3 separate regions of the Homo sapiens genome follow, and regions 1 and 2 are each linked to region 3. The links come from fine-mapping of genetic effects on gene expression. A gene starts in region 3. Each other region holds a variant in brackets. All regions are shown on one strand. Distances are between the middles of the regions. Region 1 overlaps ELK3 (ETS transcription factor ELK3). Region 2 holds the start of LOC105369923 (a long non-coding RNA gene). Region 3 holds the start of ELK3 (ETS transcription factor ELK3).

Region 1 (4,242 bases), 29 kb after region 3:
GGGTGGGGCTTGGCTTCGGACTTTGGGTTGAGTTCAGGTCACCTCCATGTGTCTCATTCTGGGGCAGCAGCTTCCTGGCAGCATAGCACAGGAGGAAAAGTGCCAACTTATGATGCCTCCAAGACCCCAACTCGGCAATGGGATGCTGTCACTTTCCCGTGTCAGTCTCCTGGCCAAATGCAATCACATGGCAAAGCCCCAATGTCAGCACTCCTCCCACAGCCACTCCAGTGCAGGGCTACACAGTCACCTAAGGAGAGGGCAGTTGAGAACATTTAACAAGTCTGCCATATGGGTTCTCATAAGTCATGCCCAGAACATGGTCTCTGACACATGGGGTTGGATTGCAATGAAAAGTGATTCTGTGATGCACAAGAAGCTCCGAGGAGGCCAGGCAGGTGGAAATGCTAAGTGTAGTAAAATACATGGATAGATGTTTCTGCTGCCCTCCTGTCCCATTCGGAACGTGATGTCAGTTAAAAGTGGGGGGTGGCGGTGGCCGACCACTTTCCCACCTGGCATGTGAGCAGAGGCCCCACAGTCCCTTCCCTGCAGACCTCCAAACCCACCGGCAGCCTTCTGCCCTCAGGAGCAGATTCATCTGAGCAGGCACTTAAAGTTTCAAAGATATGTTAAAGCTGACTGACTGACATGTTTGGCCAAGAAAATCTCAAGAATTTGCGACAACTGTTAGCCGTTCTTAGTGCCAGTGAAGAGAAGAAAGTTGTGGCTCATATCCAAGTCATCAGAAGGGTGGTTCATAGGAGGAGTTGGGACTCGTCAGCTGCCATGCATCCCAGCAAAGTGGGGGCTTGCAAGATTTGTGAGATGCAGAGGTGGTTTTGACCCAGCAGTGAAATGACTGTCTTACAGACCATTGTGGTTAATACTGATTTCTGTAAAGAATATCCCCTTTAAAGAGCCCTAAATAAAATGCCCTGTGGGTAATTGGAGAGCACTCCTAGTCTACTTTCCTTTAATTGAGAGGAGTTGTGGGGTTGACAATATTGGTACAAATAACCCTCCCCAAGGCAATTATTCTGGCTTCCAGGTCTCCCAGAGCTGCCCCCTGGGTTGCGGTCACTCCAGGTTCAGTCCCCTGCCCCCCGCCCACCAGGACTTCAGTGTCTCCCTCCTATCCAAGGGGATGATCCCTAGCTCTCTGTGCCACTCACAACAGTTGATCCGTGGCAAAGCTTTTGAGGCCAGTCTAACCACCTTTTTTTAAATGTAATGAGGATTGATAACACAAATGGATTATTATTATTATTACTACTTAGAATCAATACCTATTGTCATGAAAGTCCTCAAAGGCCTGAAATTGAGAAACTGCCCAGGAGTGGGGAAAAACTTCCTTGAGAAGGCCCTATTTGAGCTGGGTCACAATGGATGAGAAAGAGTTCACCAGGCTCCAAAGCTAAGGAACAGCATTTTAGCCAGAAGAAATAGCATTTAAAAAGTTCACACCAGAGTTGAAGGAAAAGGATAACATTGTATATATAGGTTTTTGTCTCTTCATGGGAGAAATTGCTTTTCCCATCTGTGCATCTGTGATGGTGGGCTTTGACCTGCAGCATGGTGAGTGCCGGGAAAGGGAAGGTCTCTGCAATTGGCAGTGATTGTTCGGTTTCACAAGCATCCACGGACTGGGCAGCTTTGAGCATTGTATGGGTTATCAGAGTGCTGGCAATACAAAATAATCCAGCAAAGTCCTTTCCTCGTGAAGCTCATCACAGTAGGAAAGGCAGTTACACTTAGACATATACCACAACCACAGGAGAGATATTCCAGGCACCTGTATAAAGTATGGGGTCCAGCATTTTAGTTAGAGACCGACTATATTAGTTCTTTCTCACATTGCTATAGAGAAATACCCCAGACTGTATAATTTATAAAGAAAAGCGGTTTAATGGGCTCACAGTTCTGCAGGCTGTACAGGAAGCATGATGCTGGCATCTGCTGGGTTTCTGGGGAGGCCTCAGGAAACCTGCAATCATGGCAGAAGGCAAAAGGGGAGCAGGCGTGTCACATGGCCGGAGCAAGAGCAAGAAAGCGAGGGTCAAGGTGCCACACACTGTTAAATGACCAGATCTCATGAGAACTCAGTCACTAACTCAAGGATGGTACCAAGGGAGATGGTGCTAAACCATTCATGAGAAATCCACCCTTAGGATCCAGTCACTTCCCACCAGGCCCCACCTCCAACGTTGGGGATTACAATTCAACATGAGATTTGGGCGGGGCACACATCCAAACTATATCACGGACCCACAAAGAAATTGATGGGATGGGCGGGAATAGACACTTGTGTTAAGTGGGGAATGGTTTGAATGGGGACTCATTCTGCAAGTGGTCATGTCATTAATCATTGTTCTGCATCATTCCCCATGCATCGCTGTCACTCGTGGGGACATGTGGTGAATAGAGGAGGATCACAGGGCCTCCCTGTATTTCTGAATTGTGGCTCCTTACAGAAATGCAGCCAGGAAGCTCCTGGTTCAGAGTGGCCCCTTGAGATGGAAGTGAAAGCTACTTTTTATTAGGTTCACTGGGGGAAGGAGGGGACAGCTGAGTTGCCCATTCTGAAGCCCCCTCTCTCCTCGCCAAGTTTGGTCGGCAT[C/T]GTGACCAGCAGCTCTGACCTGGCCTCCTCTCCCTGCAGGTATGGAGAGTGCAATCACGCTGTGGCAGTTCCTGTTGCAGTTGCTGCTGGATCAGAAACATGAGCATTTGATCTGCTGGACCTCGAACGATGGTGAATTCAAGCTCCTCAAAGCAGAAGAAGTGGCCAAGCTGTGGGGACTCCGAAAAAACAAAACAAATATGAACTATGATAAGCTGAGCAGAGCCCTGCGATACTATTATGACAAGGTAAACCCTTGACCTTGCATGGGGCCGTCTTGGGGAGGGTGGAATCCCCTCTGCGTAGTTCACTGATGAAAGAAAATAATAGCGTGCTATGAATCAAGTTAGAAAATAAAATAGGGGCAGTGCATACCTTCTTTTTGGAGAAAAGCTGTGCTGTAGGGATTTTCCCCACCCTCTGGACGCCCTTTGGATATTACTGAGGGTCACATTTTGTTTCTTCTGCATTTTCGTCTGAGTTTGCTGAAGAACTTTGCTCACAATACAAATGAGATGCAGGCAGGCTCTGGGGCTTTCCTCATGTTGAATTGCTTGAATGACACAATGCGTGTTAAAATCCGGAAAGTCTGTTTATCCTGTCTGGTTTGTGGTTCAATTAAAGGGACCTTTCCTGGAAGGTGGTAGCTTTGGCAGATTATTTTTTAACAATTCAGTGCCTCAGTATCCTCGTTTATAAAACAGGAATCAGCATAGGAATAATAATAGGAATAGGAATCCTGTCTCAGGATTGTGGTGATGACCGACCGAGCCATTACATGTAAGTACTTAGAACGCTGCTAATAGGAGTAGGAATCCTGTCTCAGGATTGTGATGACCAACCGAGCCATTACGTGTAAGTACTTAGAACACTGCTAATAGGAGTAGGAATCCTGTCTCAGGATTGTGGTGATGACCGACCGAGCCATTACATATAAGTACTTAGAACACTGCTTGGTATGTGGTGCTTGCAACTTCATGGGAAACTTCCCTAATTGGAAGAAAAAACATGTTCATTTTTAAGTCATAGAGATGAGGCAGAGTGCCTTGATAAGTGATAATATAGCGTAGTTGCCAAAACCAGGACAGTTGGAGTGAGTTTTAATGCATTTCTGGAAAAGCAGTTTTAATGTGCTTGCTAGGGCAAAATTATTGCTGTTTAGGAGAACCATTTCAGGCCTTAATTGTTAGCCATTTCAGTTTGAATCTGTTGTTGCTGAATATTTAGCCTCTAAGACATAAAGGCATAGAGCCATGATAATGGTAAGCTTTTGTTCTGGTTTTATTGTTCATATTAAAAGGTGAATTAAAAACTGATTTAAATATTAGTTCCTGATCTATATTTAGGGTATGCCGTCTGCCAACCCCTTTGGAATTCAAGACATAAGGATTATACGTTTCAGGAAGTAGAGACATCATTAATTATAAAGTGTTCCTTTATGTGATCGTAATTGCACGTGATTGTGTCATTGAAATGCTAAAGGTGCTCTCCTTTAACGTAGCAATTAATTAATCCTGACTTACTGCAGAGTCCTACTAAGATATAAAAGCACTTCTTGCAAATTGCACTGTCTGAAAGCCTCGCAGATGGCTTATTGTTTTGCGTGTTTTCCCAGGTTCTAA
Region 2 (4,242 bases), 98 kb before region 3:
TACATATGTGGATAAAGCTATGGAGTGTTGAAAAGCGGGGAGGGGAGGGACACAGGATAGAAGGCAGGAAGGAGGTCAAGTTGGGTGTTGCTAGGAAGCTGTCACAATTTCATCATGCCTGGGGGTGAGACAAAATTCATAATGTGAAGTCAAGGTTGGAAGAAGCCAGGTCGAGCTTCAAATTGGGAAATGAAGAATGTATACAGTGGAAAGCAACAAGCATGTGGGACAGAACAAGTTTGGCAAGGAGTGAGGTACAGAGGAGCAGAGGCCAGGCGTTCAGGACTAATGCCATGATTGCTGGGTGTCTGTAGCAATTCATTCAGTCAGTCACTCAATACATATCCCTTGTTCACTGTTTTCATTCATTCAACAAATATTTATTGAACGCTCACCTTGTGCCAAGCACTCATTTACATAATAGGGATATAGTAGAAGACAAACAGGAAAAATCAGTGACCTCATGGAGTGGACACAGACAACATCATAAATAAAATATCTAGTATGTCAGACAATAAGCGTATGGAGAAAAATAAGCAGGGAGAGGTGAGAAGGAGTGCTGTCTGGGGAGAGGAAGGTCGTTATTTTAAAGAGAGTGGTCAGGGAAGGCTTCTCTGAGAAAAGAATGTTTGAGCAAAGACCTGAAGGCGGAGGGAGTGAGCCACGTGGCTCCCTGAGGGAATCCTGCAATTGCAAAGACTCCAGACAGGAAGGTGACTTACTGGTCCAAAACAGCAGGGAAGCAGGTGTGGCTGGAGCAGAGTGAGTGAACTGCCTGAGGGCTGGTGTTTAGTTTAGAGAGAGGAAGCCAGCCCAGATGGTAAAGGGCAGTGGTTTTCAATGGGGTGGTGCCATCTGATAGTGGGTGTTTGTGAAATTCACGGAGATGTTTTTGTCTTCTACTGTAGTTGTGCCTGAATGTTTACATATTAAAATGCATCTCTTATTGTGGGCTTTCTTTTTATTTCTGCTTTGTATTTTAGATATGACTCTTAAAAATTGTGCATGGAGGGAGGTCATATTATCTCTGAATTCCAATTCTGGATTGCAAAGGCGGTGTTATACCATGTTGCTACTAACAGCTGCTAACTTGCATCTAACAAAGCTGAGACTCCAGAGAGGGACCATAAAGGTCATTGTGAGAACTCTAAATTTCACTCTTTAAGCTGAGTTGTTTGAGTAGAGTTGAGCAGAGGAGTGGTGGGGTCAGACTTAGGATTTAAACAGCTCTTCATGCCTGCCGTATGGAGAACAGAATGCAGGGGCCAGGGGAGAAGCCTGGAGACCAGGTAGGAGGCTGCGGCACTAATGGCGAAAGATGGAGGTGGCAGTGGAGGAGTGAAAAGTGGTCTGATTCTGTGATATATTTCAGAAGGCGGGAGCTATAAGGTTTTCTGAAAAAGATTTGTAGGGTGTGAGAGAAAGAGAGGTGTTGAGAATGACTCCATATTTTTGACCTGAGCATTGAAGGATGTAGATACCATCAACTGAAATGGAAAGCCTATAGGTAGAGTTGGTTTGGGGAAAACACCAGAATTTACTGGACACCAAACTATAAACTATATGCCAGGAACTATTTTAGGCACCAGGAACTTTCATAGGTCTGATACAGAGCATTATGTAAAGGAGTTCATCAGGCCAGAAGCTGAGGCCAGCAAGGACCAGCCTGTTTGACATGTAGGATTCCAGCTAGACTCTAAGCCTTCTGGGGTCAGTGAGCATGGTATGGTGTCTTGATCAACTCTGTGACCCACTTAGGACATGTTTGATAACTATCTATGGAATGAATGATGACTCTCTGCCTCTCATTCTCTGAGTGATTCAAATCATGACGGCATGAAAGTGTATCCTTATGTACAACCATAAAATTATTAGAATAACTGTTCTGGGTTTAGGCAAGGATTTCTTTTGGCTCATTTTGGATATTCTTATAAGATTGTAGCACCTCTAGAACAAAGATAGTGTATTTAATCTTTGAATCTGCAGGGCCTAGCGCCTAGCAGGTATTTGTTGAATGAAAACATTTCAGTGTATTTCCTCAGACTTTTTAAAATCAGGTATATTTTTATGGCCTTGTGATCATAATACCCATTTTATTTGTTTCCTAATTTTTACTTACTC[C/T]TTTGTTAAAATTATTTTTCCATATATAGATTCTTCATTAACTACTATTTTTATGACTGCACAATAATTTATTGCATATGGATAAACCATAATTCCATTACTCATTTCCTCATTATCCAATAAGATTCTTTTGGGCTATCAAAATAATAAATAAAACATCAATGAATATTTTCCTTAATGAGGCCTTTTATGTACTTTAGGTTATTTTAGTAGAGTGGTAAGATTTCTTGGTCAAGGACTATAGCAGACATTATTAGTATTTACCAACATCTGTGTTTCTCTGCTCCTTTTGGGCATGCAGAAAGGAGGCTTCACTTCTCAGCCTCCTTGCCATTGGGTAGGGTCATATGAATAGCTCTGGACAATGAAGCACACTTCATTGTGAATGGAAGTGATGTGTGAATTTCCTGGATGTGGCTATAGAAAGCCTATGCATGATTTGCCAATCTCTCCTGTTTTCTGCAAGGGTGACCAATGACATTCCAGATGGTAGAGTCCCTGAGTGACACAGAACAACCCTCCCTGTTCACCAACCTGAGGTGGGTATGTTGGAACTTTTGTTACAGTAAACTACTAGGATTCTGGGGTTAATTTGTTACCACTGGTAACCTAGTCTTTCCTGACTAATACAGAGACTCTGAGCCTTATGACACATTAGAGTATATATTGGCAAATTGCACAGTGTATATATAGTAGGTACCCAATAAATATCTCTTAAATGAATTAATGAGACTGGCCACCAAAATTACATGAAAATACCAATTTCAATGCTTATCAACAGCAATGGATTTATTACTTGATAGTTCTTGCCAACTTAATAGGCAAAAATATTGTCTTGGCTATATTTTAATTTGTATTTCTTTGCTTATTGGAAAAACTGAACATTTTTCATCTGTTGTTAGCTATTTCCTCTTTCGTATATTATTTGCTCTAAAGCTTTCATTCACTTTCAGTAACTATATGTTGAATGCCTTCACTGTTCTAGATATTGGGGCTGTACTAGTGAATAATTTTGCTGTCGTGAACTTTCATTCAGGAGGGGAGAAAAATGACGTGTACACAAATACTTAAATATTTTAGGTAATGGTAAGTGCTATGAAAATAAAGCAAGGTATGAGACTTAAAGATTGGCTGGGTGTGTTTTCACGCTGACTGGTCATGCAGGGCCTTTCTGATAATGTCATTTTTGAACAAAGGGGATGAGCCCAGCGGATATTGGAAAGAAAGGTGTTCAGGCCAAGGGAACAGCACATACAAAGGCCTTAAGGCAGGGGCATGCTGGATATTTTTGGGGATCTAGCAAGAAGCCAGTCTGGCTGAAGCAGAGTGAGCAAGATGGGAGTAGTAGGAGATGAGAGTGGAGAGGTAACAGGCCACAGCATGAAGAGTCTTGCTTTTTGCTTTTTGCTTTTCTTTGGATTGATATGAGAGTCACTGAGGGCCTTTGAGCTTAGGAGTGACATGGTATGACTTACTATTTAAAAGGATTACTTTGGCTTCTCTGTAGATAAGAGACAGTAGTGGTTAAGTGAGAAGGGATCAGATTCTAGATATTTTTTGTGGTAGAGCTAATTGATTTTGATGATAGGTTGGATATGGGAGTGGAATGTGAGAAATAAAGGAGTCAAGAATGATTTCAAGATTTTTTTTTTTTTAATTGAGACGGAGTTTCACTTTTGTTGTCCAAGCATGATCTCAGCTCACTGCACCTCCGCCTCCGGCGTTCAAGCGATTCTCCTGCCTCAGCCTCCCAAGTAGCTAGAATTACAGGTGTGCGCCGCCACTCCCGGCTAATTTTTGTATTTTTACACAATACAAAATACGTGGGGTTTCACCATGTTGACCAGGCTGTTCTTGAAATCCTGACATCAGGTGATCCACCCACCTTGGCCTCCCAAAGTGTTGGGATTACAGGCGTGAGCCACCACACCCTGCCTGATTTCAAGATTCTGACTTGAGCAATTGGGAAAATGTAGTTGCCATTTACTTTATTGCTCCATTAAACTATATTTGGTATTTTTAATGACTCCAGAAAATTCCATGTCAGAAATCAAATAAACAGTATACTGTGGTGGATAAAGTACTTGATTTCCAGGCCAGGGGTAGGTCTTGATTGACTTC
Region 3 (4,242 bases):
CTCCACATCCCAGGTTCAAGCAATTCTCGTGCCTCAGCCTCCTGAGTAGCTGGAATTACAGGCATCTGCCACCATACCTGGCTAAGTTTTGTATTATTAGTAGAGATGGGGGTTCACCATGTTGACCAGGCTGGTCTCGAACTTCTGACCTCAGGTGATCCATCCACCTCGGCCTCCCAAAGTGTTGGGATTACAGGCGTGAGCCACTATGCCCAACCCTAAAGTGATTTTAGACTCACAGCAAAACTGAGAAGGAGGCACAGCGGTTTCCCATATACCTCCTGCCCTGACACGTGTACAGCTTCCCCAATCATCAACATCCCCCACCAGAGTGGTACCTTTGTTGTAATTGAATCTACATTGACACATCACTATCACCCAAAGTCCATGGTTTACATTAGAGTTCATTCTTGGTGTTGTATATTCTGTGGGTCTTAACAAATGTGTCCACCATTATAGTATCATACCGAGTAGTAGTTTCCTTGCCCTCTGTGCTCCTCCTGTCCACCCCTCCCTCCCTGCTAACCCCTGACAACCACTGATCTTTTGTACTATCTCCATAGTGCCTTTTACAAAATGTCATATAGTTTGGAATCATACAGAACATAGCCTTTTCAGACCGGTTTCTTTCAGGCATATATCTCCTAAAGCAAAGCAACATGAGTTCTTAACTGTGTGGATTTTTTTTTTTTCCCTGAGGATAATAAGTTTACATTCTCTCAGTCCAACAGCTGGATCATATAGGGACACCATAGGTGTTCTACTGAGTGACAGAAGAAGATGACTGGGGATTAAAACAATAATACCCTAATTGGAAAATTAGCTGTGGGAAATCAGGGGTTGATAAGCAGCCCTCTTTTCCATATCTTCTCCTTCTGCCCCACTCTCCTACCGTGCCCCCACCCTACACCCCACGGGTTTCCCACTCCTTCTCAGAGGTCTGGAGGGCATTCTCCCACCCTTTCCAGTGGACTACCCACAGGAGCCCTGAAGCAAATGCCCGAAGGAAATTCCTATCACCTGTGTGCTCTGATAGGCACTTGGAGCTGGGATGTGGTACTAATCAGTAAAACATACCCCGTGCCCTTTAGCAGCTCACAGTTGATGGCAGTGAGAAATTTGTAAACAAAATAATCTTTCAGGAGAGACTGCAAAACTAGAAACAAACGTAGTGGAGGAACTCTTAGAATGTGGTCCTTTTGAAAGGACTCACACCCGGCCCCCAGAGAATCTGACTTAATTGGCCTGGGTTGAGTATATTGTTGGAGAGTGTCAAAACACTCCCCAGGTGATTCTGACATTAGCCGGGGCCCGGAACCACCCCCGACCTACTGAATCTGGGACTCCAGGAGAGGCCCAGCCACTAGTGGTTTAACAAGCCCCTTGGGTCAAGTTTGAAAACCAGGGGTCTGGGCTGCTAAGTGGCGGCATGGGAATGGAAGGTTCTGGAAGGTGAGCAGTGAGGTTGGGGCGCAGGCCTGGGAAGGGAGAGGCTCTTCAACAGCCATCCCCCCCAACCTTGTCTCAGCCTAGGGCAATGGGCAGGCTCTCCCATCAGAGCCTGGCCTGAGCCCTCAGAGGCAGGACCTCCTTGAGGGATGTGGAGGTGTGAAGACCAGTTCTGAGACCACAGAGGCTCCCTTCAAGCCTCAGTCTCTGACCCTGCGGGCATTATTTCCATGACTTCCAGTGTTGTGGCTCCTTATCCTTTCCCCACAGGCTCGCCCCCCAACTGAGGGCTGGCTTTTTTATTTTTTTGAGACGGAGTTTCGCTGGTTGCCCAGGTTGGAGTGCAATGGGGCGATCTCAGCTCACTGCAACCTCTGCCTCCCAGGTTCAAGCGATTCTCTCGCCTCAGCCTGCCAAGTAGCTGGGATTATAGGGACCCACCACCACACCTGGCTGTTTTTGTTGTTGTTGTTTTGGTATTTTTAGTACAGACGGGGATTCGCCGTGTTGGCCAGGCTGGTCTCGAACTCCTGACCTTAGGTGATCCATCCGCCTTGGCCTCCCAAAGTGCTCAGATTACAGGCGTGAGCCAGCACGCCCGGCCGAGGGCTGGCTTTTAAAACACCGAAAACCCAGACAGGAACGGTGTCCATCTCCAACCCCAGACGGAAACTGTGCCCGCACCCACAAGAAAAGCAGTCCTTTGCCCAGAGCAACCAAACCCTGAACCCCACTCTCGATTCCCCTCTGCCCCCCAACTCTTCCATCCCAGCGGATGGGAAACAGCGAGTCCAGCCGCCTCCCCACCTCGGGACCCCCCTCCCGGGCCAACTGCGCAGGGCACGACCCCGTCGTGGTGCCCCGCGCGCTCGACCCCCAGGGGTTGAGGTGAGGAGGGATCCCCGGTGTCCCGGGAAGCGCGGCGGCTTCTGCGGGTTGCGGGCGGACCCCCCTCCCCGTGGGGAGGGGCTGCGGCCGCGCGGAGTCGCCGCGGGTCGGAGGCTCCTCCCCGGGGTGGCCGCGCAGGAAGCGGGGCGGGTGGGGGCGGTGCGGGGCGCGCACGGGGCCGGGGCGGCGGGGGAGGCGCGGGCCTGGGCGGCCAGCCCCGGCGCACAGCCGCGGCCGGGGCGCGCGGCGCGGGGCGGAAAAGCCTGTTTACACAGACTGCACACCGCCTGGGGAATAATGCAGTAAAGGAAGTGAGCCGGCTCGGCCTGACTGCTCCAACTTCCTGCTCTCACACACACCAGAGGGGAAAAAAAAAGAGGAGCGAGAGAAAGAAAAAAAGGGGGAAAAATCAGGATCTCATTACAAGAGCCACAGACCGTCTGCAGACGCCTGTCAGCATGGAAAGTCGGGGGCTTTCGCCCGGGTCCTCCTAGAAATTCCCCCCGAAGAAGACTCCCCCACATCTGGGTAGGTAACAGGGCTTCTGCCTGTTGCTCGGACACTTAAAAAGTTTGTTTGGGGGTGTTTTCTTTTTTTCTTTCTTTTCTTGGGCGCGGTGGGGGTGGGGCGGGGGGCGCCGCGGGGTGGGCTGCGGGCCGGGGTGGGGGTGGCGGTGCGTCCGCGCGGGAGGGCCGGCCGCGGGGAGGGGGCGCCGCGGATGCTCCTGCGCCCGCGTCGCTGCCACCGCCGTCGCCCGAGCTCGCGCCGGGCCCGGGGCTGCGGGGACCCTGCGCCCGCGGCTCCCCTCCCTGGGGCTGCGCTGCGACCCCAGAGGAAGGGGCGCCGGGCGTGCAACCCTGGGAGCTCGCCCAGGGCCCCGCTGCAGGCAGCGCGGGGAGCGGGGGACGGCGAGACTTCGGGTCCCTGGGAAGAACCGTGGCAGGAGCAGGCTGAGTGCCTGGAGGCTGGACCACCGCCGACCTTCCAGCTGGGACCGCAGTCAGGCTCCCCTCGAGTGGGCAAAGTGCACTGGTGCTCGGATCCAGGGAGGAAGACAGGGATGGAGAGGGCGGTGGAGGACATGGGTCGCGAAGGTGTGGGGCTGGGGGCTGCGTCCACTCTCGCTTGGCAGGTGACCCCCGCCCAGGTCACCGCCCCAGGCGCACGCCCCATCGGACATTTAAAAGCCGGTGGTCTCTATTGGGCATGGTTTTGGAGAAGGACCAGGCAAGAAATGATCTTGGGGCCCCTTCCACTCCCCATCCCTGTTTACCTTCGAACTCAACGTTGGCCTGTGACGCTACTGTAACTTTTGGGGAGGCGGGATTAAGATTTTGGAGTAGTTAAAAAGCAAAAATAAAAGGTCTTGGTTTTGTTATCTTTTCTGAACCGAATCATCCTAGGGACAAGCTGCAGTTAGGCGGCGGGTGGAGGTGGAAGCAAGAAATGTTATTTCAGAAACTGCAAAAGGGGCTTTTTAGAAAGAAAAAAAAACGAGTGTCGGGAGAGTTTCTGGCTTGTCTGGAAACGGCAAGACTAATTGCCATGCGCTTCCGCTTTGAAACTGGCAGCAGACAGCATCTTGAAAATGACTCACTAGAGGAGCTCACAAAGAAACTGTGGTTTGCTCCTTCTTAGGTTTATGTATTTGTGCCTTTTACAGTTTCCTTTGTAGTGTTCGAGGGGTCCCCCGCCCCTTCCCCGCCAGCCCCCTCCCACCCTCCCTCATTTGAAAGCCCCTGGCCGGTCTTTAACTACCCCCACCCCAGTCCTCCAGCCTGGGGGTGGCGGGGAAAGGGGAGGCTGAGTTGTTTTTGGAGTTGGCTGCGGAGAGGGTTAAAGGGATTCTGCTGCTGCAGGGGGAAAAAGTTCCTTGAATTTTCCACTGGCTGCTGCAGGAAGAGA

What was found. PIP is the estimated chance that this variant, and not a neighbour inherited with it, causes the effect. A credible set is the group of variants that fine-mapping cannot tell apart.
Region 1: its variant is the best candidate, but not a certain one, in a credible set for the expression of ELK3 in whole blood (TOPMed, PIP 0.57).
Region 2: its variant is the best candidate, but not a certain one, in a credible set for the expression of ELK3 in neutrophils (BLUEPRINT, PIP 0.52).

The regions. Positions count from the first base shown.
Region 1 is chr12:96,220,906-96,225,147 of GRCh38, forward strand. ELK3 (ETS transcription factor ELK3) reads left to right here. Exons shown (of 5, transcript NM_005230.4): 2 at 2,660-2,868. The coding sequence starts at 2,662. Among named protein-coding and RNA genes, the nearest start is that of ELK3, 29 kb to the left of the region's middle. RefSeq lists an enhancer at 3,069-3,118. The variant C/T (reference allele first, on the strand shown) is at 2,621.
Region 2 is chr12:96,093,673-96,097,914 of GRCh38, forward strand. It overlaps LOC105369923 (a long non-coding RNA gene), which reads left to right and starts at 2,371. Exons shown (of 3, transcript XR_945238.2): 1 at 2,371-2,660. The variant C/T (reference allele first, on the strand shown) is at 2,122.
Region 3 is chr12:96,191,841-96,196,082 of GRCh38, forward strand. ELK3 (ETS transcription factor ELK3) reads left to right here and starts at 2,535. Exons shown (of 5, transcript NM_005230.4): 1 at 2,535-2,865. RefSeq lists a silencer at 2,360-2,499 and an enhancer at 3,831-3,910.